Regions from separate parts of the Homo sapiens genome. Here regions 1, 2, 4, 5 and 6 are each linked to region 3. The links come from fine-mapping of genetic effects on gene expression. A gene starts in region 3. Each other region holds a variant in brackets. All regions are shown on one strand. Distances are from middle to middle. Region 1 overlaps CLK4 (CDC like kinase 4). Region 2 has its middle 30 kb from the start of ZNF354A. Region 3 holds the start of CLK4 (CDC like kinase 4). Region 4 overlaps COL23A1 (collagen type XXIII alpha 1 chain). Region 5 overlaps ZNF354A (zinc finger protein 354A). Region 6 has its middle 22 kb from the start of MSANTD5.

Region 1 (4,088 bases), 25 kb before region 3:
ATAAATGAAATACAAGTAATAAAAACCTGGGGGTTTTGGGGTTTTTTTGTTGTTGTTGTTGTTTTTGAGATGGAGTCTCACTCTGTCACCCAGGCTGCAGGGCAGTGGCGCGATCTCGGCTCCCTGCAACCTCAGCCTCCTGGGTTCAAGAGATTCTCCTGCCTCAGCCTCCCGAGTAGCTGGGACTACAGGCGCATACCACCACGCCCAACTAATGTTTTATATTTTTAGTAGACAAGGTTTCACTGTGTTAGCCAGGATGGTCTTGATCTCCTGACCTCGTGATCCGCCCGCCTCAGCCTCCCAAAGTGCTGGGATTACAGGTGTGAGCCACCGCACCCACCAAAAACCTGGGTTTTATTATTCCATTTCACTCGGAGTCATTTCAGAGTAGAGCTGTGAATAAGAAGTCAAACTGATCATTCTGACTCAATGTATTATTACAGGAAAGCACAATGGTAGAATCTGGCAAACCTGAATTTAAGTCACAATTACTGGGAGATTTGGCCAAGTCACTTCCAATTTCTCTAGTATACAGCCCTTCTAGAGTACTCAGAGGAGTAGTTTTCAATTTTATGAAGTATAAAATTGTTAGTAGTTTGTCCCCTTGCTGTCAGCAGGAGTCAATTGAATTCAACTACTCTGAAAATTTTCATGAATGCATGGATGAAAAAAAACCTCAAGAAAATGAGCAGCAGCAGCAAGCTGGAAATAATCTACTTAGCTGCACTTTACAAATGCCTCCTAAAAAAATCAAGCTTGACTTCAATGGAATTTCTAGAAACAATTCAATGGAATTTCTAGAAATAGTAATTCTATGAGGTATCAAATTATTAAGAAAAATACCTAAATTACAAAGGATTCATGTGCATTGGCCATTCTAAATCTTTTTCCCTTTTAGTGTTGAAGCTCAAGGCACTGTCAAAAAAAAAAAAAAAACAAAAAACCTTGGAACTTGACAAAATGAGTTCAGAAATACAAGGAAAAAAGGCAATTAAGAGTAGGAACTTGAAAGCTCAAAGAAGAGGGGAAGGAAGGTTGACAAAAGACACTCAATGATCCCAGAGGTACTGCCCTAACCTCTAAGCATTGCATCTATCCTAATTTTTTAAAGTTTCGTTTTAATTCCCGAAATTCCATGAATTAGGCCTAGAAATTAGCAAATACCCTTTGTGAAGAACGTAAATTTTCAGAAGAGACAGGGGGTTAGCAATCAATAACTTCTTAGTAAGAAATAATGTGAATATTTTTCTTTCCTCCTATATCCTGAGATCAGCTACTCTGAGTTTTTCATAGAAAGTAAACACTAATTTGGGAACTTGAAGCACTTATTGGGGGAAAGGACAGGAGGCTTGGGTAGTACAATGGCAGTGGAAAAATAAAATGAAGGGGAAAATAAAGGATAGCAAACACCTTAATCTGTAGGGCTACACTGGTAAACTCAGGAAAAACCTTGTTTTTAAACATCAAATGCTTCTTTAAAAAAATTATCACATACAGTTCAACTATTCTGAAATAAAGTCACTGTATTTGGACTATATCAGAGGCCTAAACATAATGTATGCAGTCATTCTACAATAAACTTTTTGTTTCAGCTTTCT[T/TAA]AAACTCCTAGTCTACTTTAGGAACACAGCCTTACTGTATTGACAAATGTTGCCCCTAAGTAACATAGAAAACCAAGCTTGGTTTCATTATTTGTCCTACAAGAAAATCCCATGCATTTTATGTTTAAAATACATAAACAGATTAGCCAGGCATAGTGGCTCATGCCTTTAATCCCAGCACTTTGGGAGGCCGAGGCAGGAAGATCACTTGAGGTCAGGAGTTTGAGACCAGCCTCGACAACATGGTGAAACCCTGCCTCTGCTAAAAATACAAAAATTAGCAGGACCTGGTGGCACATGCCTGTAATCCCAGCCACTCGGGAAACTGAGTCAAGAGAATCGCTTGAACCCAGGAGGAAGAAGGTTGCTGTGAGCCGAGATCACGCCACTGCACTCCAACTTGGGCAACAGAGCAAGACTCAGTCTAAAAAAAAAACAAAACCTAAACAGATAAAACTCCAATATTTGTGTAATGCACTTATGAAACAGGGATACTTTTAACAAAAATTCACCTGTATCTGGAAATAAGCACTTAGGAATTCTACAACAAAAAATATTCCTACCTGGCTGACTGAACCATAGCAACAGACATTTTTTTCTTTTGCCCAATTAAGTAATTTACCACATACCGGGTTTTTGTTTTGTTTTGTTTTTTCTTTTTTTGAGACGGAGTCTCGCTCTGTCGCCCAGGCTGGAGTGCAGTGGCACAATCTCAGCTCACTGCAAACTCCGCCTCCTGGATTCAAGCAATTCTCATGCCTCAGCCTCCAGAGTAGCTGGGATTACAGGCGCCCGCCACCACACCCAGCACTTTTTTGGTATCTTTAGTAGAGACAGGGTTTCACCATGTTGGCAAGGCTGGTCTCAAACTCCTGGCCTCAGGTGATCCGCCTGCCTCGGTCTCCCAAAATGCTGGGATTACAGGCGTGAGCCACTGTGCCTGGCTCCATATAGTTTTTATGTGAAAACAAGGACAGTAAAAGAACAACAACAACAAACGCTGAAGTCAAAAAGTTTATGTAACCAATCAATTAAATTCTGGAAATTTCAGCAGCACTTTCTTCCCAAACTGCTTTCCAATCAAATCCTCTTTCTCCCGTAAGAATTATCACAGACATAAATTGCCTAATTAATAAACTTAATTCTTATAGGTTTACGTATTTATGTCATTTGATAAACAGATGCTGGCCAATGTTAAGACTCCTAAGGACTTGGTATTAAAAACTGAAACCTCTCATCAGAATTTCTATTTTTATATCTGTGACTCACCAAACATACTTGGAAATGTCCATTTTCCAAGCTGACTTTCCAGTTAGATTTTAATCTTAAATAAAGTGTGTATGTGGTTTTATTAAACAAACTGTCACAATGGACAAACTGCATGCCTTTCCATGAATGTCTGGTTATCACCCTGACATCACCCAATGAAAAAGAATACAACACTTAAAATTTAATAGAATTCTAACAGTAAACATTTTCTGAGTTTTGGTTTCTAGTACCTGCTTATCTAGAGTTAATAATAATCACCCGTTCAACAATTACAGAAGAAAAACTTTTAAAGTTAAGTTCTAAATTTGAAGTATATAAAGAATATTCCTTTAAGAATATAAAGTAGTCAAGATTTCCTTTTACTCAAAAAAAATCACTTCAGAGGTGACCTCCATGTACAAAAGGCAAGATCAATCACATTTATCACTGGACACAAAGGATATTTCAAAGGTATTTAAAAATGGTAATTTCAAAAAGAAAAATTAATTTTAATTTTTCTAATGCATTATCAAGACCATACTTGCTTAACAAGTTAATTATGCTATTGATACAAAACATACAATATTTACACTTAACTGTACAAAATAATTTAATGTTTACAAAAATATTAGAATGTTTAGTTGACTGACACAGTCTTAAGTAATCTCTTCTAGAGAAGTATATAGTAAGACCACTGATTCCCATTTCATTTCTTTTTTAATAAGTCAAAGAAAGGATGCTGCAATGCTTCATCCAAGGTAATTCTTTGAGTTGGATCATATTCTAACATTCTTCGAACCAGGTCAAACAGTTTCTCATGTTCTTCATCATGACAAAGCATAAATTCCTGGGGGAGAAATGTTTTTGTTTTAAAAAAAATTATTAATAGTGCAAACACGTGGTTTATTTAACCTTTAATCTTTTTTCTTTTACCTTCAACGGTTTGCAGCGTCTCCTAACATATCTACCAGCAGAACTGTGTTCATCCCAATCTAGCTGGTTATGGTGAAAATACTTGCGTTTTCTACAGAAAAAAAAAAAAAGTCTGGATTAGTAAAATAACAAGAGTCGTATCTTTACCCTGCACCCATGAGGGGAGACATGGAAAGCAGCTCTCTCTAAGTGTATAGACTTATATAATATAGATGCATACAATTTTTAAAAACCTCAGCAACAATTATATATCGGACACCTCATATCCTCCACCCTGTGAGGTTTTAGTCTCTCAACTAAGTTGTT
Region 2 (4,088 bases), 130 kb after region 3:
AGAAAGACATAGCAAATTAACATTGTATTTTCATCTGTTTTAGAGAAGTAATGAAGTATTTTCTATTTTTAAACATCCTGGCTAGTATTTGCTTTCTAAACCCAAAACAATCATGTTACTTCCATTACCAGAAAGGGGTCCTGACCCAGACCCCAACAGAGGGTTCTTGGACCTTGTGCAAGAAATAATTTGGGGTGAGTCCATAGAGTAAAGTGAAAGCAAGTTTGTTAAGAAAGTAATAGGCTGGGTGTGGTGGCTCACGTCTGTAATCCCAGCACTTTGGGAGGCCATGGCGGGCGGATCACTTGAGGTCAGGGGTTTGAGACCAGTCTGGACAACATGGCGAAACCCCATCTCTACTAAAAATAAAAAAACTGGCAGGGCGTGGTGGCACGCCTGTAATTCCAGGTACTCAGGAGGCTGAGGTATGAGAATCACTTGACCCCCGGAGGCAGAGGTTGCAATGAGCCAAGATTGCGCCACTGCACTCCAGCGTGGGCAACAGAGCAAAACTCCATCTCAAAAAAAAAAAAAAAAAAAAAAAAAGGAAAGGCAAGGCATAAAAGAATGGCTACTCTGGCTATTACATAGGCAGGGCAGTGGCATGGGCTGTTCAGTTGAATACACTTATAGTTACTTCTTGATTGTATGCTAAACAAGGGGTGGATTATTCATGAGTTATCTGGGAAAGGGATAGGCAGTTTCTGGAACTGAAATTTCCTCCCCTTTTTAGACGGCATATGGTAATTTCCGAATGTTGCCATGGCATTTACAAACGGTCATGGCGCTGGTGGGAGGGTCTTTTAGCATGCTAGTGTATTATAATTAGTATATAATGAGCAATGAAGACAACCAGAGGTCACTTTCATTGCCTTCTTGGTTTTGGTGGGTTTTGGCTGGTTTTTTTTTTTTCCCACTACTCAGGCCCTCAACAGAATGGATGATGCATCAGCAAGGTCTTCGTGACCTGTATCTTGTTCTGACCTCCTATCTCACCCTGTGACTAAGAATGCCAAACCTCCTGGGAATGAGGCCCAGTAGGTCTCAGCCTTATTTTACCCAAACCCTGTTCAAGATGGAGTTGCTCTGGTTTGAATGTCTCTGATACTTTTTTTTTTTTTTTTTTTTTGAGACGGAGTCTCACCTTGTCGCCCAGGCTGGAGTGTAGTGGCACGATCTCAGCTCACTGCAACCTCCGCCTCCCGGGTTCAAGGGATTCTTCTGCCTCAGCCTCCCAAGTAGCTGGGATTACAGGTGTCCGCCACCACGCCTGGCTAATTTTTGTAATTTTAGTAGAGATAGGGTTTCACTCTGTTGGCCAGGCTGGTCTCGAATGCCTGACCTCAAGTGATCCACCCGCCTTGGCCTCCCAAAGTGCTGGGATTACAGGCATGAGCCACCGTGCCCGGCCGCCTCTGATACTTCTCTACTTAAAAATTGTAGGCTTGAAAACAATAATCTTGCTTGAGCTCAGATAGTCACACATATATTGGGTGACTATCATGTTCCAGGCCCTCAAATAGGATATACGAAAAGGTTAATAATAGGTAATCCTTGCCCTTAAAAGTAAATTCTATTGATGATTTCACACTGTTTACAGCAGTTTCTCAAGGTGTGATCCACTGACGTCCCCTCCGCATTTCTGGTATGGATTAGAACTACAGTGGACAGGCTGGGCATGGTGACTCACACCTGTAATCCCAGAACTTTGGATTCTAAGGATTGACTCACTGAGACGGGTGGGTCATTTGAGCTCAGAAGTTTGAGACCAGCCTGGGCAACATGGCAAAACCCTGTCTCTACTAAAAATACAAAAATTAGCCAGGTGTGGTGGTGCATGCCTGTAATTCCAGCTACTCGGGAGGCTGAGGTGGGAGGATCACCTGAGCCCAGAGATCAAGGCTGTGAGTAGAGACTGCACCACCACACTCCAGCCTGGGCAACAGAGAGAGACCCTATCTCAAAAACATCAACAATTGGGCTGGGCACAGTGGCTCACGCCTGTAATCCCAGCACTCTGGGAGGCTGAGGTGGGCGGATCACCTGAAGTCAGGAGTTTGAGACCAGCCTGGCCAACATAGCGAAACCTCATCTCTACTAAAAATACAAAAATTATCCAGGTGTGGTGAGGTGTGCCCATAATCACACCTACTTGGGAGGCTTAGGCATAAGAATTGCTTGAACCTGGGAGGCAGAG[G/A]TTGTAGTGAGCCAAGATTGCACCACTGCACTCCAGCCTGGGCGACAGAGCAGGACTCCATCTCGTAACAAAACAAAACAAAAAAGAACTATGGTGACCCAGGTAAGTGTGAGCTCACTTAGAGTAGAGTGAGAGCAACACAGGAAAGCTGCTCAGGGAAAACCAGGTTCCTGTTTGGTGCTGGAAATTGTCGATGAAGAGAGTCAAATTCTGATATTTGGAGATTTACCCTTAGCCAAATGTGAGGACCATGACCCGTGACACAGCCCCAGGAAGTCCTGAGAACCTGTGCCCAAAGTGTTCAGGCTACAGTTTGGTTTTACACATTTTAGGGAGACATGAGACATCAATCAATATATGTAAAATGTACATTGGTTCAGTCCGGAAAGGTGGGACATCTCAAAGCGGGTTGTTGGGGGGTTTCCGGGTCATAGATGAATTCAAAGATTTCCCGATCGGCAGTTGGTTGAAAGAGTTAAATCATTATCTAAAGACCTGAAATCAACAGAACAGAGGGTCTGGGTTCAGGGGTTGTGGAGACCAAGGTTTTTATTACGCAGGTGAAGCCTCCAGGTAGTAGGCTTCGGAGAAAATAGATTGTAAATGTTTCTTATCAGACTTAAAAAGAATCCAGACCCACTGGGCGCCATGGCTCACGCCTGTAATCCCAGCACAGTGGGAGGCTGAGCTGGGTGGATCACCTGAGGTCAGGAGTTCAAAACCAGCCTGGACAACATGGTGAAACCCTGTCTCTGAGAACTGCTTGAACCTCAGAGGCGGAGGTTGCAGTGAGACAAGATCGTACCACTGCCCTCCAACCTGGGCGACTCTGTCTCAAAAAAAAATAAAATAGATAAAATTGAAAAAGAGGATGCTGAAGCTTAGAATGGGGACATCTGGTGGGACTCAGATGAAACTGAGAATCTTGAATCCACAAGTCACTCTGAGCCTCTTTTGCCAAACGAAGGAGCTTGCTCTGTTGTGTCTAAGGAGACTAGCTGCCCTTTTCTTGAAAACTGTATGACAATCTCACATGAGGAGATGCCTATTCTCCTTCAGACCCACCACAACTACCACCAGTTGGCACCAGACTCACAACTAGGATCTTAGATTTTTAGTACCCACTATGGCCTAGAATGAGATTGCTTTTACACCAAGAGAACTGCAAGATGTTGCCAATCTATGTTGGCAGAAACCTAGGGAGTGTGTGAGCGTGTCAGACCAAGGCAGGCAGAAGAACATGACCTACAGTAGACTGAACTCCCTGACCTAGGTACACTAAGATTTTGGATATCACGTGTTAGTTTGCTTAACTGGAGGTGGCTCTCAAAGCTTATTTGGTTGGTGGCTGGAACTAGGACTCCATGGTGGCCTAAGATGAGTGGGCAGAGATGCCAGAGCTGCCCTGGCATGGTTGGAGGAGGGAATCTGAAGGCCTAGGGAGACGAAATGTTGAAAGGATTTTTACCACGGCAACCTGCACGCCTACCCACCAACTACATCCCCCAGGAGACCCCAGAAAATGCCTTCTTTACTAAGGTGTTGAGAAATACATTCATGGGGGGAACACCTGCATCCTTAGAAGGTCTGTGGCTTTCTCCTTTGTAGGCCAGGTATGATGGATCGGGGGTGTGGCCACCATTGATGTGAGCTCCCAACAGCAGAAGCCAAGAGGCAGTGCCCAACCTCCAGACGCAGTGCGAGCATGCCCGCCATCACGGACCGCAGCACGTGCCTGTGGTCAGCAAGCCCTGGCCTGTAGGAGGTTTGGCAGAGACTAACTGTCCCAAGGTCTCTGCGACTGAAACAGATGAGAAGCCTGCTAGAACACTGCCTGGGAACTCACCTCACAACAAAGGGAGTGGAGCACTGGGTTCAGGCCCATAGAATT
Region 3 (4,088 bases):
GGTGACTCGAGCCTGTAGTCCCACCTACTGGGACAATCACTGGAGCCCAAGGAAGTCAAGGCTGCAGTGAGCCATGATCACGCCATTGCATACCAGTATGGGCGACAGTGAGACCCTGTCTCAAAAAAAAAAAAAAAAAAAAAAAGAAAATGTGTATTTCAAGTGCAGTTCTTCTGAAGCGTTCCGTCAAATACCAAAGTTGTATTTTAACCACATCAGGAACTCAGCTTGGTTAAGCATTTTTAAATCATAGCAAGCAAAATCACATCTGATGACCGAGCGTTATTATTATGACCCTCCATTACTATGAAGTTTTTTTCAAGACTTATGTATCTTCTTCAGTTTTGTTTTTTCCTCTTCTACTGTAAGTCTGCTTACAACCAGCTAACCTCCAGCAAAACAGAACTCTCAAATTATCAGTTAATATGCAAACATTAAAATAAGAACGAGCTCCGTTGTGAGAGTCCAAAATTCTTCTCAAGTTCACTACTTCAAATGTAATTCAGCTGTTAGTCCCAGCCTCTGACCTCCCCCACTCACCCTGCAATGTTCAAAAATATTTTATCTGGAGGCACAAAGATCACCCGACCCACGTTCTACGTGGTAAGGTTCCTTCGCATACATAAAAAAGAAAAGCTATCTAGAATCATGACACTGCCTCTAATAAAGCATCCCACATGCTAGAGTAGGTATCTTTCAAAAAATAATGACACAATGGATCTCATATGTAGATCCATCGCCACTGCCCTTAAGATCCTGTAGTTCTTGACAACTTTACGCTACGTACATGGCTTAAAAACATCGAAACAGGTTATAAGTTTAGGATTGGATGGCTCCAAGAGGACTGCATTTAATGGGTTACAAGCCTGTAGGGGTGTGTAAAAAGCACAATCGCACAGGACAGCTATGAGGCAAGACAAAGTGGCTGGCGAGTTCAGTTTGCGGGGCGGTTTCCTAAGGATCGGATAAGCCTATCTGGACTATTTAGGCAACCAGGGATAATAAGATGCAAAACCACCAGAAACGCAGGTTCGCTGCAACAATGTTGTGTTCAGCATAGCACAGAGGACTAGCCTCCGCAAATTTCCACCTCTCACAAGCAGCTACTGCCCTCAACCACCTGGATTTGCACGGACGCCCGGTCCCCACCTCCCGGCTCCTGGGCACCCGGCCAGTGCCTTTGGCGCACTCAAGACAGGGGCAAATGCTTGACTCTGGAAAACCCCCGAAACGCTACAAACGGCCCAGGCCAGGAATCCAGGGGAAGACTTGATCTCCGACAACACGAATGCCAGAGACGGCTCTCGAAGGGTCTCCCGACAGGTCCTAGCGCCCGCCGGCTGGAAGAGGTCCCGACAGGGTTAACCAACAGCCGCGCTCGCCAGGCAGCAGGGGACCGCGAGCCCACGGCCTCCGGAGCCGCGACGCGAGCGGCCAGGGCCCTCAGAGAAGGGTCAGCGGCAGAACCGCGACGCCCGAGCAACTTTCGGTGCTGCCGGCGTGCACCAGCCGAGCAGCGCCTCGCAGAACTCCCAACTCAGCTCCAGAAGCCCAGGCCCCTAACGCGGTCGTTTCTCCGACACCTGGCTCGGAGACCTAAAGACCGACAGCCGCCTGTCCCAGCACACACCATCTGCAACCCTACCTCCGCAAAAGCAAATGGCCCTTCGGCCGAGAAATGTCGCCAAACTGCCGTCTTCCCTCCTCGGCCGCTGCGACAAACACCCCACAAAATGGCGGCAGCGCCGTCGCCCTAGAATCCCCCGAGTCGCCTCTAGCACCACCTACGCCGCGCGAACGCGCCTGCGTGACAGAACCTTGCGCGCTCCCGCCGCTCCACCTAAGGGCGGGGCTCCACGTGACGTAAGAGCGGGGCTCGAGCCTCCACACTGCGGCTGCGCGGCCCAAGCATTTCCACCCCCCCCCCCCCGCCCACCCGGTCCCGGGGCCTCTAGGCCGGGAGGGTGTTTACGTTCTCTACGGGCTCGGGTGGAACCGGGAAGGAACGCCCGTGTCCCGCCCTCAGTGTGTACCGCGTGTCTGCCCCCTCCCCCGGGACCTCAACTCCCGCAGCCGGCACCCGACAACGGCCCCAAAACCGCCTAGGGCGGGCCTTGGCTGGTCCCTGGGCTGTTCCCTGGACTGGGTGCTTGTCCTGCCCACTTGGCGCTTCCAGTCTAAGGTGGATTCGGACAAAGAGGCTGTCTCAGAAAACAAGCTCAAGGGGTGCTAATCTTTTCAAGGCACGTGCTCCTATTCAGAACAAAACAAAAACCCGGAGGTTTCAATGGAGACTCCTGACAAGGTTTTCCTGTTAGGATCCCTACCTCCTGAGCAGTTAAGGTCGCTGGAAGTTTCCCTAACGAAGTTTTCCCCATTTTTTTTTGTCCCTGCGGGCTGATTTTATTCAAGGCTGAAAAATGTCTCTGAGCTAGTGATAGTCCGTTATGGGGCTTGCTTACCTCAAATAAGGTATTCTGCAGTTCTGAGGACCCTCAGGCAGTTCCCCCGTGTAAGTATGTAACATGAGAAATATTAGGGTCAAAGTCGGAGCCCTGTGGGGAACACTCAAGGGCCAGAGGGAAAGGGGCCTGAGAAGGAATGATCAGCAGAGGAGGAGAACCAAGAATAGGGTGTCAAAGCAAGGAAGGGCGTAAGTGAGGGAAAGGGTTTAGGTGAGACTGAAGATCGTGGGGGGGGACGGCGGGCGGGGTGGGGGTTGGCTTCTGTATTCTGACGGGGATTCGCTGGATAAAAGGGAAAGCTAGAAATCAAATTTGGGAGGGTAGGGTTGAACTCTTGCGGGTATTAGCCCAGTAGCATGTGGGAGACCTGTTATCCTGTTAGGTGAAAGGAGGGAACGGAAATACCTTTAGTGATCTAACATGATAGAAACTTGTGCCATCTGGTTTGGGTAAGTAGGGTAAATTTAGATAAATCTCGGAGATTGTACAGCATTTCAAAAAGTAAGTTGAATTTTCATGGAGATTGCACTCCAAGAAGCGAAGTTGAAAAGAAACTTGGAAAACTGGAAGGGTAAACTCTTTATGCTACAGAATGAAACAAATGATATTATTTTCATCTAGAATAGCCACCATTTTTGCATCTACAAATTTAAATCTTACTCATCCTTGAAAGGCCATTTCTTTAAGATGCTGTCTCTGACATGAGTTCCCACCCATTTCCCGGCTCCTGACTACTCCAGTTAGATGTGAAGTCCTCAAATAGTGGAGTATTTGGAGCCACCTGGTATGCTAACAGATTTTGCCCAAAGAGTGAAATGTATTGGTTCTACAATTGATTACACATCCCGTCTCAAGGGAATCTATTAGATAGAATGTTGAGCTGACTGGTCTGGGCGATAATACAAGGTAGAGTGGGGCTCAAATTGCAGCATATGAGAATGTAAATTCAAGCTGGCACCAAAGAATGTTCTCCTGTTTCATGGAGTAGGAGAGATCCTGCCTCCTGGGGTTATAAGAAAGTGTGGTCAGGACAGCCCACAATTCTGCTCAAAAAAGCAACACTATGTTAAAAAGCAGCCACTTGAAATGCCACCTACAGAGGCCTTTATATTATAGACGTCACACACACTGTTACCCAATAGTAGAGTCTGCTTTGTAATTACATTCATCTCGCTTTAGTGTTTTAATTTGTATGCCACCAAAAGGTCTAATGTTTAAAAGTGTGTAGTGATCAGAAGGAAGCTGAGAATGACTAGCACCTCTATGCTATGTGATGCAGCACTATGGTGCCCCTAGTCACTCTCTGTGGCTTTGTGCTGAGTTTGGAGACAAGGACCTGATTTATATTGTCTTTGGTATCTCAGGCCTAGAACCCAGTAAATATTTGTAGGTTGTTTACATAAGCTGCTTTGGGCCATTTTGCTCAGTTGGTTTAAGGTCAAAGTGAGTAAGTTAAAGGTAGACATTTCATCCCAGCATCACTGCACCAGTTAGCTTACCACCCTTTCGTGGCAGCCTCAACCCTTCCTATTAAGTCAGTTACCTGGCAAGACTTAATGAAAAGGTTTATCTAAATTTCTGAGAATCTACTACCAATACCAGAAACACTGCCTAATCCAGTGG
Region 4 (4,088 bases), 42 kb before region 3:
CCACTGAGGTGGAATTTCTCTAGAACACAGCTCCAGCTTAGAGCCCAAGCTTCTCACCCTATTCCTTGGATGGTCACCTACTGGTTTTGCCGGCCTCATGTCCTCTCCCTTTTCTTCCAATAACACCACTCCAAATTGTCCTTTGGGATCAGCTTTCACTTCTTGGTCCCTAGAGCTCCAGTGGGGTTGATCGTGCACACACATGAACACACACACACAGACGCAGCTGAGCCTCGCCCATCGAGAGGCTGCCCTGCGGGTCTCAGTGACCAGGACGGGTAATCCGTATTGTTAGATGCAGGCTGTCTGTACTGATAAATGCAGGCAATCCACACTGGTCCATCAGAGGGAATTAGGGAATTTCTGCTGGGACTGTTGGAAAACAGAAACTAACACTAAGGATGTGAATCTGGAGTTGCTGGAAGCTTCCCTGGCACTTTATGGGGAGAGTGAGGGCATCCTTGAGAAATATGGAGCCAAGAGGAAGAAACAAAATCCAGGCACCTTGAGCCGGGCCTACACAGACACTAGCCTGGACTTCTCCGTTACTCAAGCTAATTAATAACCCCCTGCTTTCTCCCCAATTTTTATTTGTTGTTGAAACAGCCTCAGTCTGTCACCCAGGCTGGAGTGCAGTGGCGCAATCATGGCTCACTGCAACCTTAAACACCTGGGCTCGAGCAATCCTCACACCTCAGTGTCTCGAGGAGCTGGTCTACAGGCTTGCGCCACCATGCCCAGCTGATTATTATTTTTTTTGAGATGTACTCACCCAGGCTAGAGTACAGTGCCATGATCTTGGCCCACTGCAACCTCCGCCTGCCGGATTCAAGTGATTCTCGTGCCTCCCAAGTAGCTGGGATTACAGGCACATGTCACCATGCCTGGCTAAATTTGGTGTTTTTAGTAGAGACAGGGTTTCGCCATGTTGTCCAGGCTGGTCTCGAACTCCTGACCTCAGGTGATCCACCCACTTCGGCCTCCCAAAGTGCTGGGATTACAGGTGTGAGCCACTGCACCTGGCCACACACACACACACACACACACACACACACACACCTAGAAATAAATACATATAAATTTTTTTCTTTTTTTTAAATAGAGACGAGGTCTTGCTATATCATCCAAACTGGTCTTGAACTCCTGGGCTCAAGTTATGCACCCACCTTGGTCCCCCAAAGCACTGAGATTATAGGTGTGAACCACCACGCCCCAGCCTGAATTCTTTGAAATTAAGCTGCACCATCTTGGAGTCATGTCACATTGCTATTTGAGGGTAAAAGGATCCAAAGGCATCTAGAAAGGTTGAAGCTAATGGGTTGCTGCTCGGTGAGGGAAGGAGGGACAGCCTGCTCTGGAGACCATGACTGTAACTGCACCTGCTCTGGAAGGGGATTTGGAGGCCACAGTCAGATATGGCTGCTAAGAAAGCCAAGGAGCTGGGGGAAAGGCAGGATAGTAGGGGGTAACAGAGCTTCCCAGACACACCGAGTGGGTGCAGGTGCACTGTATGTGGTCTCTGGTAGACTGACTA[C/T]CTTGGTCCTTCGGGGCTGGGGAGTGGCTGGTCACCTCCAGCCTAGTGTCCTCTTCCCTTCCTGCAGTGAGGGAAGTGCTACCATTCTTTGCATGTGCTATGATATGGGAAAGCTGGCAAGCAATGTCCTAGAGTGCCACCCTTAGTCACTCACTTCGGGGGCAGAACAGCATCTGCTCAAGGGTTAAAGGCCAAAGACTGCAACCAACGGGACTGTGCCAGAGACAATCCCAAACCCATCAACCTTCCCTTCAGCTGTGGCCGGCAGCACAGCTGGACAGCAGAGCCCCAGGGGAGGCAGAAATTTTGTGGTTGAAGAATGTTCCCAAAATGTGGTCCTTGGGAAACACCAAAGCAGAAGGAAGGCCCAGTTATGAGAACTTAGGCGGGCCAGTGGATGACTGAACCCCCGCTCTGCCCCACCCTCCTCTGGGGTGACAACAGAAACATTCCATGGCCCCAGCAGACACTGGGGTAACACTCCACGGCTGACCCTGGGGTAACACTTGTGGCCCCGGCTGACGCTCAGGTAACACTCTATGGCCCCAGCTGACTCTAGGGTAACACTCCGCGGCCCTGACTGATGTGTGGGTAACACTCCACAGCCCTGGTTGACACTGGGGTAACACTCCACGTCCCTGGTTGATGCTGGGGGTAACACTCCACAGCCCTGGATGACGCTGGAGTAACACTCCACGTCCCTGGATGACGCTGGAGTAACACTCCACAGCCCTGGTTGATGCTGGGGGTAACACTCCACAGCCCTGGATGGCGCTGGGGTAACACTCCACAGCCCTGGATGGCGCTGGGGTAACACTCCACAGCCCTGGATGGCGCTGGGGTAACACTCCACAGCCCTGGATGGCGCTGGGGTAATGCCCTACAGCCCTGGATGGCGCTGGGGTAACACTCCACAGCCCTGGCTGACCCTGTTGGTTGCTCCCCAGTAGCCATGCCCAGTCTTCCTTCCTACCAAAGCCTCGATTCTGTTCCAGCGGCAACACGCCCAGCCTCAGGGGATGAGTCAAGATTGGCCAAAGCCTCCTATGGCGATCGCATTACCCTTGCCAGTGAAGGGGATGGCGACCCTGTGACCTAGCTCTGGCTAGTGGCTGTAAGTCTGCCGAAAGGTGGGAAAGTTTTCCCCTGAATTGAAATTAAAGAGACAACCTCTCAAGAAGACCGCTCTCTTCCCTGCCCCCTTCCCTTCTACCCAGGCTACTCTTGGGTGAAGACATAGGTTCACAGCTGCAGCAGCCACCTTGTGACCATGAGGAAAGGACAAGAGAACGGCAGAGACTGAGTGGTACTCAGGTGTGGCCAAGTCGCTGACAGACCCAGGATGCGCTGACCGTCTTCCAAGCTTCTCCTGTAGTGTGTGCTAAGAAAGGACACTCAGATATTCTGTTACTTCCCATCAAAAGCATATTTACCATCCTGTACTTTTCCTGTCTGTTATCATATTTGCATACATGGGAGCTGTGACCACACTATCAGAGGAGAGGCAGTGGAAGAGGTTGGATGACAGAGCTGGTAAATGGTGGGACCAGGCCTCAAACTCTCTTCTGCTGATAGGAAACCTCAGGCATGGTCTGCTCTGCTCTGCCTCTGGTATAAATTCATTCAGCTTACAGATTCCCCAACCTCAGGGGCCATGCCTCAAATTTTCAAAGCCGATGTGGAAAAGTCCAATCCAAAATGACAAAATATGTCTGTGAAAGGAACGCCCCAATCCTTGGCTCATTCTAAACATGCTACTATTATTATAAAGCTCTCCCAAACTGTTGCAAGGAAAAAAAAAAAAGGACAAGAAAAGAGTGGAGAGAGAAAGTGAACATGCCAAGAAGTCATTGAAAGGAAACTTTTTTTTGTTGTTTTGGGAGCCAGGAAATGTCAAGGAAACAAATGTAGCTATGATTTACACTGCATCTCCAGTTGTGCCATGGAATTCAAAAATAGGCATCTTAATTAAAACTGACAGCAGAGAGCAGCCCTGACAAGTAGACAAACCACCAAAGAGGCTGAAAAATCTCCATTTGACTCTGGGTTGACAGTATTTAACCAATATACAGAGTTGATAAGAGAAAAGGAAAATGCGTAAACTTTACTCGAGTCTCTGGGCTTTTCTTGTTTTCAAACTGATTGGTCTGGACAATGGAAGGCCAACAGCCAACAATAAATCCATTGTAAGCTGGCATGGTCTCCTCTGAATACAACTAAATATTTCTTTAATCCTTGCATTACATTTTTTACTGTATTATGAAAGCCATGTATTCTAAAGTTTTAAGCTTTTATAACATTGTAACTATAGGTATAAGATGGGGGGATTGATTACTTAGGCAACCTATTTAAAGCACTTTAAGAGGAAAATATTAGATTTTTTTGCATGAATATTTTCACATCATAGTGAAGATACGATCGTTCATGGCTCTTACTCAGAAATCTTGTTTATCTCTTCCTTTGTGTGCCATGGGAAGGGTCTTTAATGATCATGAGTTGACATGAATATTCCTTTCTTGTAGCTTCTGTATCTTCATTATCGGGCACATCAGCC
Region 5 (4,088 bases), 98 kb after region 3:
ATAAAGCACGGTGAGGAGATGGCGTGGGGGCTGCAGGGCTGCGTGTCAGATGATCTGTGCCTGTGTGAGCCGAAGCCTGTGCAGCACAAGGAAGTGAGCGAGCCACATGGACGCATGACCGCCACGAAGAACAGTCCCAGACAGAAAAAGCAGGGCAGAGGCCCTGAGTGGGGGCCTGCTTGGCGCCCCCCATGACACACTGCAGGGCGGCCAAGGGTGATCAGAGGCCTCGAATGAAGGGCAGAGTGGAAGGAGCTGAGAGTGAAGAGGTAGCCAGGGCCAGACCACGTAGTGTATTTCTCCCAAAGGAGAGTTAAAAAGATAAACAAGTGTGGTTCCCATATAAAAAAATCTCACCTTTCTTCAGGGAGGAGAAAGCTCTCCCCAGCACAGGGGCTGTGGGGACCGAGGCTGCCTGCCCTGCAGCTCCTTGCTGGGCCCATGGCATAAGGGGCCATCACTGAGCCCTCTGGACCTGACAAGCCCTGCACTGTGGCCGTCAGGTTCTCCACATGGGCTGGCGGCTGCAGAAAGCAGCCTAGGCCTGCCCTGGGCTACTTACGGCTCCTCAGAACCTGTGCCTGGCTCTCAAGCACCAACCAAACCCTGTGACAGGGCCCGTGGCTCTCTCTCGGGTGCTCCACCTTCTCCTCGCTGGCTTTGCTTCTCTGGACCTTCATGAACACCTTTCTTTAGGCCTGAGCAATTCTTCAGTCCTTTGATCCCAGGCCCTTCCACAGGGAAGCCTTTGCTGACGCCACCTGCCTGCTCTGCACTCTCACAGCACCGAGTGTCTTTCCCACGTGGTCCTCACTGGAATGTGTCCTTCTGTGCCTTGTGTGCAATGAGTGTGTTCACCTTGTCCCCCACTAGATCGTGCACTCCAGAAGCAGGAGACCTGTGTCCCTTTCTGCCCAATGCTATACAAAGCTGTGGGCGAGGGTTCAACCTTGATCCCCCAGAGCCAGAGCCCCCCCAGTTCAACCACTCTCAGTCCCCCACTGCCACGATGGCCCCTCCCCGTTTCTCTACTCTGATTACTTCTCGGGCTCTGTCAGATTCCTCCTGCTTAAGCACCTCGCAAATGCTGTTTCCTGAAATTCGGGCCTCCACTTGGCCCCCTCACCTGGCCAGCTCCAAGCTTCTAATGCCCATCATGCTAATGGGCTCCCTGACCTCCCTTGAGTCTCGGCCCTGTCACTTACACACCTGCCCACCAGGGTTCCCCACCTGACGACTTCACTCACATCTCAAGTGAAATCCATCCCACACCCAACTGCTCCTGTACCCTGATCACGTGGGCGCCGCCTCCTCCCTCACGAACTCACGGCAAGTGCCTTCATCCAGGCCCTTCCACCTCCTGCCTCCCTCCATGACTGCAATCGCTCTGCAAGGCTTCCCGCCTTTTTTTTTTTTTTTAAGACAGAGTCTCACTCTGTCGCCAAGGCTGGAGTGAAGTGGCGCAATCTCGGCTCACTGCAACCTCCGCCTCCCGGGTTCAAGTGTTTCTCCTGTCTCAGCCTCCGGAGTAGCTGGGATTACAGGCCTGCCCCACCACGCTTGGCTAATTTTTGTATTTTTAGTAGAGGCAGGGTTTTGCCATGTTGCCCAGGCTGGTCTCAAACTCCTGACCTCAGGTGATCCGCCCGCCTCGGCCTCTGAAAGTGCTAGGATGACAGGCGTGAGCCACCGTGCCCAGCGTTCTGCCTCACTTTCAAACACGATGCTTCCAAAGTGACCATTCTTGTGAATTCAAATCACATAAGAACGTCACAAATATATTCTCTTTGTGAAACATTAAAATACTACATGTAAGTAATGCCCCCTTCCATGGACCCATTCTCAATCCCATTCCAAGTGTAACTAATGTCATCAGCTAAGGTGTGTCCTCCTAACCTTTCTCTCTGCTTATGTGCACATTACACATACACATAATTTTCATTAGACATAAATGGTGGCGTCCTAACAATGCTCTGTAACTTTTTGGGAGCTCTGTCCACGTCCCTGGACTCTTGTTTTCAGGGTGGTGATGCTCACAGGTCCCTTAGCTGTTCTTACACGGATGGAGACTCAGCTGTTTCTGATTCACACCAACTTTTCTAAGATACCAAGGACCATATGATTCCTGCCCAAATCCTTCCATTATTTCCAGTGCTCCATGGGACAGTTTCCACCTCTTAGAACCGTGCCCAAGCACTTACCACGCGGCCCTTCCCTAGCTTTCTAGGCTATTTCCTTCCTCACCTCCTCCTTTCCCAAATACACCCTGAGCTTCAGCCAGAGTGATTATTTGAAATTCCTTAAATAGACTATGTTTGCTGAATGAATACATGAAAATACAGCCCTATTCTAAAACAACAGGAAAGAGTAAGAAAGAGATTCTGAGAGATTCATGGGGAAGTGAATCCTGCCTAAGAGCCTGGGCTTCCG[C/A]TTCCCCATCACTTCTTGAGGCCTGAGAATTCTCAAGGGAGTTTCCCAACCAACGTTCCTACCTCCTCTCATTAACCAGACCATTGTCTGCGGCCATTCCGCACCTCGGGCCACCCACTTACCTAGAGAGGAGACGCCAGAACCGTCTTTCTCCACCTCCCAGGGATCTTCTCCTTGCTGCAACAGGGAGATCACTTTTGGTTTGGTAAATGGGAGCCCTGCACATAAACAAAAAACCACAACCAAACAAATCAGACTTGGTTTTGTATTGATACAGTTATCCCAAATTTAAATACAGAACTCACAGGATGGTACAAAGAGCTTCTGTGTAGGGCTTCAGTTGTGCCCCTGGGAGGTAAGGGGGTAAGGCGGTAGGGTGAGGAAAAGACAAGTGACTTGTAGGACATGACTCTGGGACAATTAATTATAGGTTAGGAAAATATGATCAACATGCAGTATTGGTAATAGGATACCACTAGCTTTCTATAGAAGAGGAAATGTTAAGATATACAGACTGATTAGAATTTCTAAGTAGGTTATCTATGAAAAGGATTATGTACCAGGTAGCTTGTCTAAAACGAGAAAACACTATCTGACTCCGCTTTTTTTTTCTGAGGAGGAGTCTCGCTCTATTGCCAGGCTGGAGTGCAGTGGCGCAATCTTGGCTCACTGCAACCTCCGTCTCCCGGGTTCAAGTGATTTTCCTGCCTCAGTCTCCCAAGTAGCGGGGACTACAGGAACATGCCACCACGCCTAAGTTTTGTATTTTCAGTAGAGACAGGGTTTCACCATGTTGGCCAGGATGGTCTTGATCTTCTGACCTTGTGATCTGCCCGCCTCGGCCTCCCAAAGTGCTGGGATTACAGGTGTGAGCCACCGCGCCCGGCCTATGTGACTCCCTTTTAAGGATGGCAGTGATCAGCAAACTACGGGTCATGGGCCAAATTCAGACCACTGCCTGTTTATGTATGGCCCTGTGCAAAGAATGGTGGGAAAAAAAAAGAGAAATATGTTACGGAGACCATTACGCAGCCCACAAAGCCTAAAGTCTTTACTACGTGGCTTTTTTTTTTTTGAGACAGAGTCTCGCTTTGTCGCCCAGGCTGGAGTGCAGTGGCGGGAACTTGGCTCACTGCAAGCTCCTCGCCATTCTCCTGCCTCAGCCTTCAAAGTAGCGGGGACTACAGGCGCCCGGCATCACACCCAGCTAATTTTTTTTGTGTTTTTTAGTAGAGACAGGCTTTCACCACGTTAGCCAGAATGGTCTCTATCTCTTGACCTCATGATCTGCCCGCCTTGGCCTCCCAAAGTGCTGGGATTACAGGTGTGAGCCACCATGCCCAGCCTACATGGCTTTTTATAGTAAAAGTTTGCTAATCCCTGGAAAAGACAAGTGGGAAAGGCAGGTGGTAGGCCTAGAGGCTGAATGAAGCTCCCTGTTGGGAGACAAGCAAACTACAGAATCGTTGGGAAACGATGCCTGAATCATGGACAAACTTGGAGTGTGTGATTACATAGAGAGAGAGGAATGATTATCAATACCACCTCTTCCATTCCCAGACACAGGGCAATTTCATGCCTATAAGGGGGAATAGGTTTTTAATGTTTATTTATAAAGATCTGATTTGTACAATCCTCACACACTCAGCTCAAATTTT
Region 6 (4,088 bases), 48 kb after region 3:
CAGCCTGGCCAACATGGCGAAACCCTGTCTCTACTAAAAAATACAAAAAGTTAGCCAGGCGTGGCGGTGGGCACCTGTAATCCCAGTGACTCTGGAGGCTGAGGCAGGAGAATCGCTTGAACCCAGGAGGCAGAGGTTACAATGAGCCGAGATCATGCCACTGCACTCCAGCCTGGGCAACAGAGACAGACGCCATCTCAAAAAAACAAAAAACAAACCTATAATATGCCAACAGCTCTAGTGGAAAAAGTAGACAAGATGTGAGAACACATATGTGTTGGGGTGATCAGACCCAACACCAGGTCGTGGGGGCGACGAAGCCTGGTGGAGTCAAAGGATTGACAAAAAGACAGTCTATGAGAGAGAGAAGTGGGACCACAGGGCCATCACTAGTGTATGGAGGCTGCGAAGGCCCTGAGCGCTGGGACCCCACGCTACTTATTGGTAATCCAACAAAGAAACAGGTGGTGAGAATGTGGAGGTCAAAAGGGCGCGTTGCATCGAGCACATGATTTACATGATTTACAGCTGTGATGGTTTAGCATTTGCTCTGCTACTTGTGATCATGGAGAGCAGGTTCTTTTAATTCAAGATACAATCGATCCTGGGAGAGCAAAGAGCAAGGAGCCAGCAAGTCTAGACACATTCTAGAGCCACGAGACCTGGACTGTATCCAAGCCATGAGGGGTTTTATGCCCTGGGCTTAGACTACGGTGTGACAGGGCAGCCTTCCACCCTTTAGCACAGAACTGGGTGTTCCAAAGGCCACAAGAGGTTTTAGACCCTGGCCCCCGGACATGTTCCAAGACTCTTTTACATTATGTCAGACATGCAAGCCCTGCCTCAGCTTCTCCCAACACTCAGCTTTTCCCAACACATATGTAATATAAGCAGAGAGATGGAAACTTTAAGAAAAAATCAAAAGGAAATGCTGGAAATAAAAAGAAAAACTCACTATAATTGAAATGGAGAATGCCTTTGATGGCTTACCAAAAGATTAGACATGACTGAGAACAGAATCAGTGCACCTGGAGGAATGCAAAGAGGAAGAAGGAATGGAAAAGACAGAGCCTATCTAAGAACTGTGGGACAATGAGAAAACATGTAAAAAATGGACATACAAGAAGGGGAAGAATGAAAGGAATTTCAAAGATTCTTTTCTAACCAAAGCATTTATGGCTATAAATTCCCCTCCAAGCTCTGTCTTAGCTTCATTCTACAAAATGCTTCTAATTTTGTGTGATTTCTTCTTTGACTCATGGAATATTTTGAAGTATATTCTTTAATTTTCAAATATTTGGGGTTTTCCTAGATAACCCTTTGTTTTTTATTTTAATTGAATAATGTCTAGTCGGAGGCATATTCTGTAGGATTTCAATCTTTTGAAATCTGTTAAGGCTGGGCACCTTGGCTCACACCTGTAATCCCAGCACTTTGGGGTGCAAGGCGGGAGGATTGCCTGAGGCCAGGAGTTCGAGACCAGCCTGGCCAACATGGTGAAACTGTCTCTACTAACAATACAAAAAATTAGCCAGGCGTGGTGGGCGCCTGTAATCCCAGATACTTGGGAGGCTGAGGCAGGAGAATCACTCGAACCCGGGAAGTGGAGGTTGCAGCGAGCTGAGATCTCTTCTCCTCTTATAAGGAGCCATACTGAATTAAGGGCCCGCCCTACTCCAGTATGATCC[G/T]GTCTTAATTAATGACATGATTTCCAAGTAAGTTCACATTCTGAGGTACTGGGGTGGCAGGGCATTTGGGGCGGGGTGCGGGGTAGGGACACACTTCAACTCAAAACACTTGCTAAACTCATTTATAGTTCTAATGTTTTCGGGTGGATTCCTTAGGATTTCTATATACATGATCATGTTGTCTGTAAATAAAGGTAGTTTTACTTCTTCCTTTTCTTTTTAAATATTTTTTTTCTCACTTGATTCACTGGCTAGAAGTTTTAGTACAATGTTGCATAAAAGTGGTAAGAACAGATACTTTTCCTCACGAGGAAGGAATTGTCTTTCATCATTCAGTATGATATCAGCTGCTGGTTTTTTGGTATATGTCCCCTTTTAAGTTAAAGAAGTTCTCTTCTTTTTTTATTTATTTTATTTTATTTTATTTTTTTGAGACGGAGTCTCGCTCTGTCGCCCAGGCTGGAGTGCAGTGGCGAGATCTCGGCTCACTGCAAGCTCTGCCTCCTGGGTTCAAGCGATTCTCCTGCCTCAGCCTCCCAAGTAGCTGGGACTACAGGCTAATTTTTTGTATTTTTAGTAGCGACGGGGTTTCACCGTGTTGGCCAGGATGGACTCGATCTCCTGACCTCGTGATCCGCCTGCCTCGGCCTCCCAAAGTGCTGGGATTACAGGCGTGAGCCACCGCGCCTGGCCAATAAGTTCTCTTCTATTCTTGATTTGTTTAGAGTTTTTAATTATAAATGGCTGTTGGATTTTGTCCATTATTTTCCTGTTTTTATTAAGATGATCATGGGTTTATTTTCTTTATTCCATTAATATGATACATTACATTAATTGATGTTTGAGGGTTAAGCCCACCTTGTATACAAGGGATAAATTTCAGTTGGTCACGGTGAATCACCCTCTTTATATGTTGGTAGGTTCCGGTTGATAGTATTTTGTTGAGAATTTTTGTAGATTCATGAGGGATATTAATCTTTAGCATAGTTTTCTTGTGATGTCTTTGTCTGGCTTTGTACTAGGTAGTACTGGTCTCATAGAACAAGTTGACACATGTTCTGTTCTTTGTTTTCTGGACAGGTTTGCAAAGGGATTGATATTTTTTCTTCAGACGTTTGGCAGAATTTGCAAGTGAAGCCATTCAACTTGGATTTTCCTTTGCAGGGAGAGATTTAAAAATATTTATTTTTTTAAAGTAATTGTAGATGCAGAAGAATTTGCAATAATAAATAGATGTCTCTGTGTCCTTCATCCGGCTTCCCTCAATGGTGACATTTTTATATTACTGTAGTGCAAAACCAATTTGGGAAATTGATGTTGGTACAATACTGTTAACTATATGACATCTTATCCAGTTTTTCTCTCTCCCTCAGTCCCTGTCCTGTGGCAACCACTCATCTGTTCTCCGTCTCTACAGCTCCTCATTTTGAGAATGTTATATAAATAGACTCGTACACTTTGTAACCTTTTCAGCTTGACTCTTTTCAGTAAGTACAATGCCTTGAGATTCACCCAGGTTGGTGATTACATCAATAGTTCATTCCATTTTATCGCTAAGAAGTATTCTCCTCTATGGTTGTGCCAGAGTTTGTTTAACCATTCACACACACATTGAAGGACTTCAAGTTATTTCATTTTTTTTAAACAAACAAAGCTGCCATCAACATTTGTGTACAAGTTTTATGTGAACACAAGTTGTCATCTCTCACAAAGAAACGCCCAACAGTGTGATTGCTGGGTTGTATAGGAAATACATGTTTCGTTTTATAAGGAACTGCCAAACTATTTTTCTAGAGTGGCTGCACCTTTTTTTTTTTTTTTTTTGAGACGGAGCCTCGCTCTGTCACCAGGCTGGAGTGCAGTGGCGCGATCTCGGCTCACTGCAAGCTCCAACTCCCTGGTTCAAGTGATTCTCCTGCCTCAGCCTCCCGAGTAGCTGGGATTACAGGCACGTGCCACCACACCCAGCTAATTTTTGTATTTCTAGTAGAGACGGGGCTCACCATGTTGGCCAGGATGGTCTTGATCTTCTGACCTCATGATCCACCCGCCTCAGCCTCCCAAAGTGCTGGGGTTACAGGCGTGAGCCACCGCACCCGGCCTGGCTGCACCATTTTACTTTCCCAACGGGTGTGTACTAGAGATCCAACTTTTCCACATCCTCGCCAGCATTTGGTGTTTTGTTTTTTAATTTTAGTTTATTGTGATAAGTGTGTAGTAATATCTCATTGTGGTTTCAATTTGCATTTCCCAAATGCCCAATGATATTCAACATATTTTAATGTGCTTATTTGCTATCTGTACTTAATTTTTTTATTTTTTCTTCTTTGAAAGGCTCCTGTTAAAGCAAACTAAATATGGCCTGAGAAGGACTCCATATCTCTATATTTGAGTCCTTGT

Evidence for each region. PIP is the estimated chance that this variant, and not a neighbour inherited with it, causes the effect.
Region 1: its variant is the best candidate, but not a certain one, in a credible set for the expression of CLK4 in subcutaneous fat (GTEx, PIP 0.54).
Region 2: its variant is the best candidate, but not a certain one, in a credible set for the expression of CLK4 in whole blood (INTERVAL, PIP 0.74).
Region 4: its variant is the best candidate, but not a certain one, in a credible set for the expression of CLK4 in non-classical monocytes (Schmiedel 2018, PIP 0.74).
Region 5: its variant is the best candidate, but not a certain one, in a credible set for the expression of CLK4 in whole blood (INTERVAL, PIP 0.72).
Region 6: its variant is the best candidate, but not a certain one, in a credible set for the expression of CLK4 in whole blood (TOPMed, PIP 0.68).

Annotation. Positions count from the first base shown.
Region 1 is chr5:178,600,062-178,604,149 of GRCh38, forward strand. It overlaps CLK4 (CDC like kinase 4), which reads right to left. Exons shown (of 13, transcript NM_020666.3): 12 at 3,783-3,873; 13 at 2,603-3,696. The coding sequence ends at 3,556. Among named protein-coding and RNA genes, the nearest start is that of COL23A1, 12 kb to the left of the region's middle. The variant T/TAA (reference allele first, on the strand shown) is at 1,602.
Region 2 is chr5:178,758,658-178,762,745 of GRCh38, forward strand. No RefSeq gene overlaps it. Among named protein-coding and RNA genes, the nearest start is that of ZNF354A, 30 kb to the left of the region's middle. The variant G/A (reference allele first, on the strand shown) is at 2,198.
Region 3 is chr5:178,625,301-178,629,388 of GRCh38, forward strand. CLK4 (CDC like kinase 4) reads right to left here and starts at 1,750. Exons shown (of 13, transcript NM_020666.3): 1 at 1,646-1,750. RefSeq lists enhancers at 696-1,376, 1,109-1,718.
Region 4 is chr5:178,583,285-178,587,372 of GRCh38, forward strand. The region is part of intron 1 of COL23A1 (collagen type XXIII alpha 1 chain); the gene reads right to left. Among named protein-coding and RNA genes, the nearest start is that of COL23A1, 5.1 kb to the right of the region's middle. The variant C/T (reference allele first, on the strand shown) is at 1,535.
Region 5 is chr5:178,722,824-178,726,911 of GRCh38, forward strand. ZNF354A (zinc finger protein 354A) reads right to left here. Exons shown (of 5, transcript NM_005649.3): 4 at 2,553-2,648. Among named protein-coding and RNA genes, the nearest start is that of ZNF354A, 5.8 kb to the right of the region's middle. RefSeq lists an enhancer at 520-1,020 and a silencer at 1,236-1,436. The variant C/A (reference allele first, on the strand shown) is at 2,431.
Region 6 is chr5:178,673,424-178,677,511 of GRCh38, forward strand. No RefSeq gene overlaps it. Among named protein-coding and RNA genes, the nearest start is that of MSANTD5, 22 kb to the right of the region's middle. The variant G/T (reference allele first, on the strand shown) is at 1,689.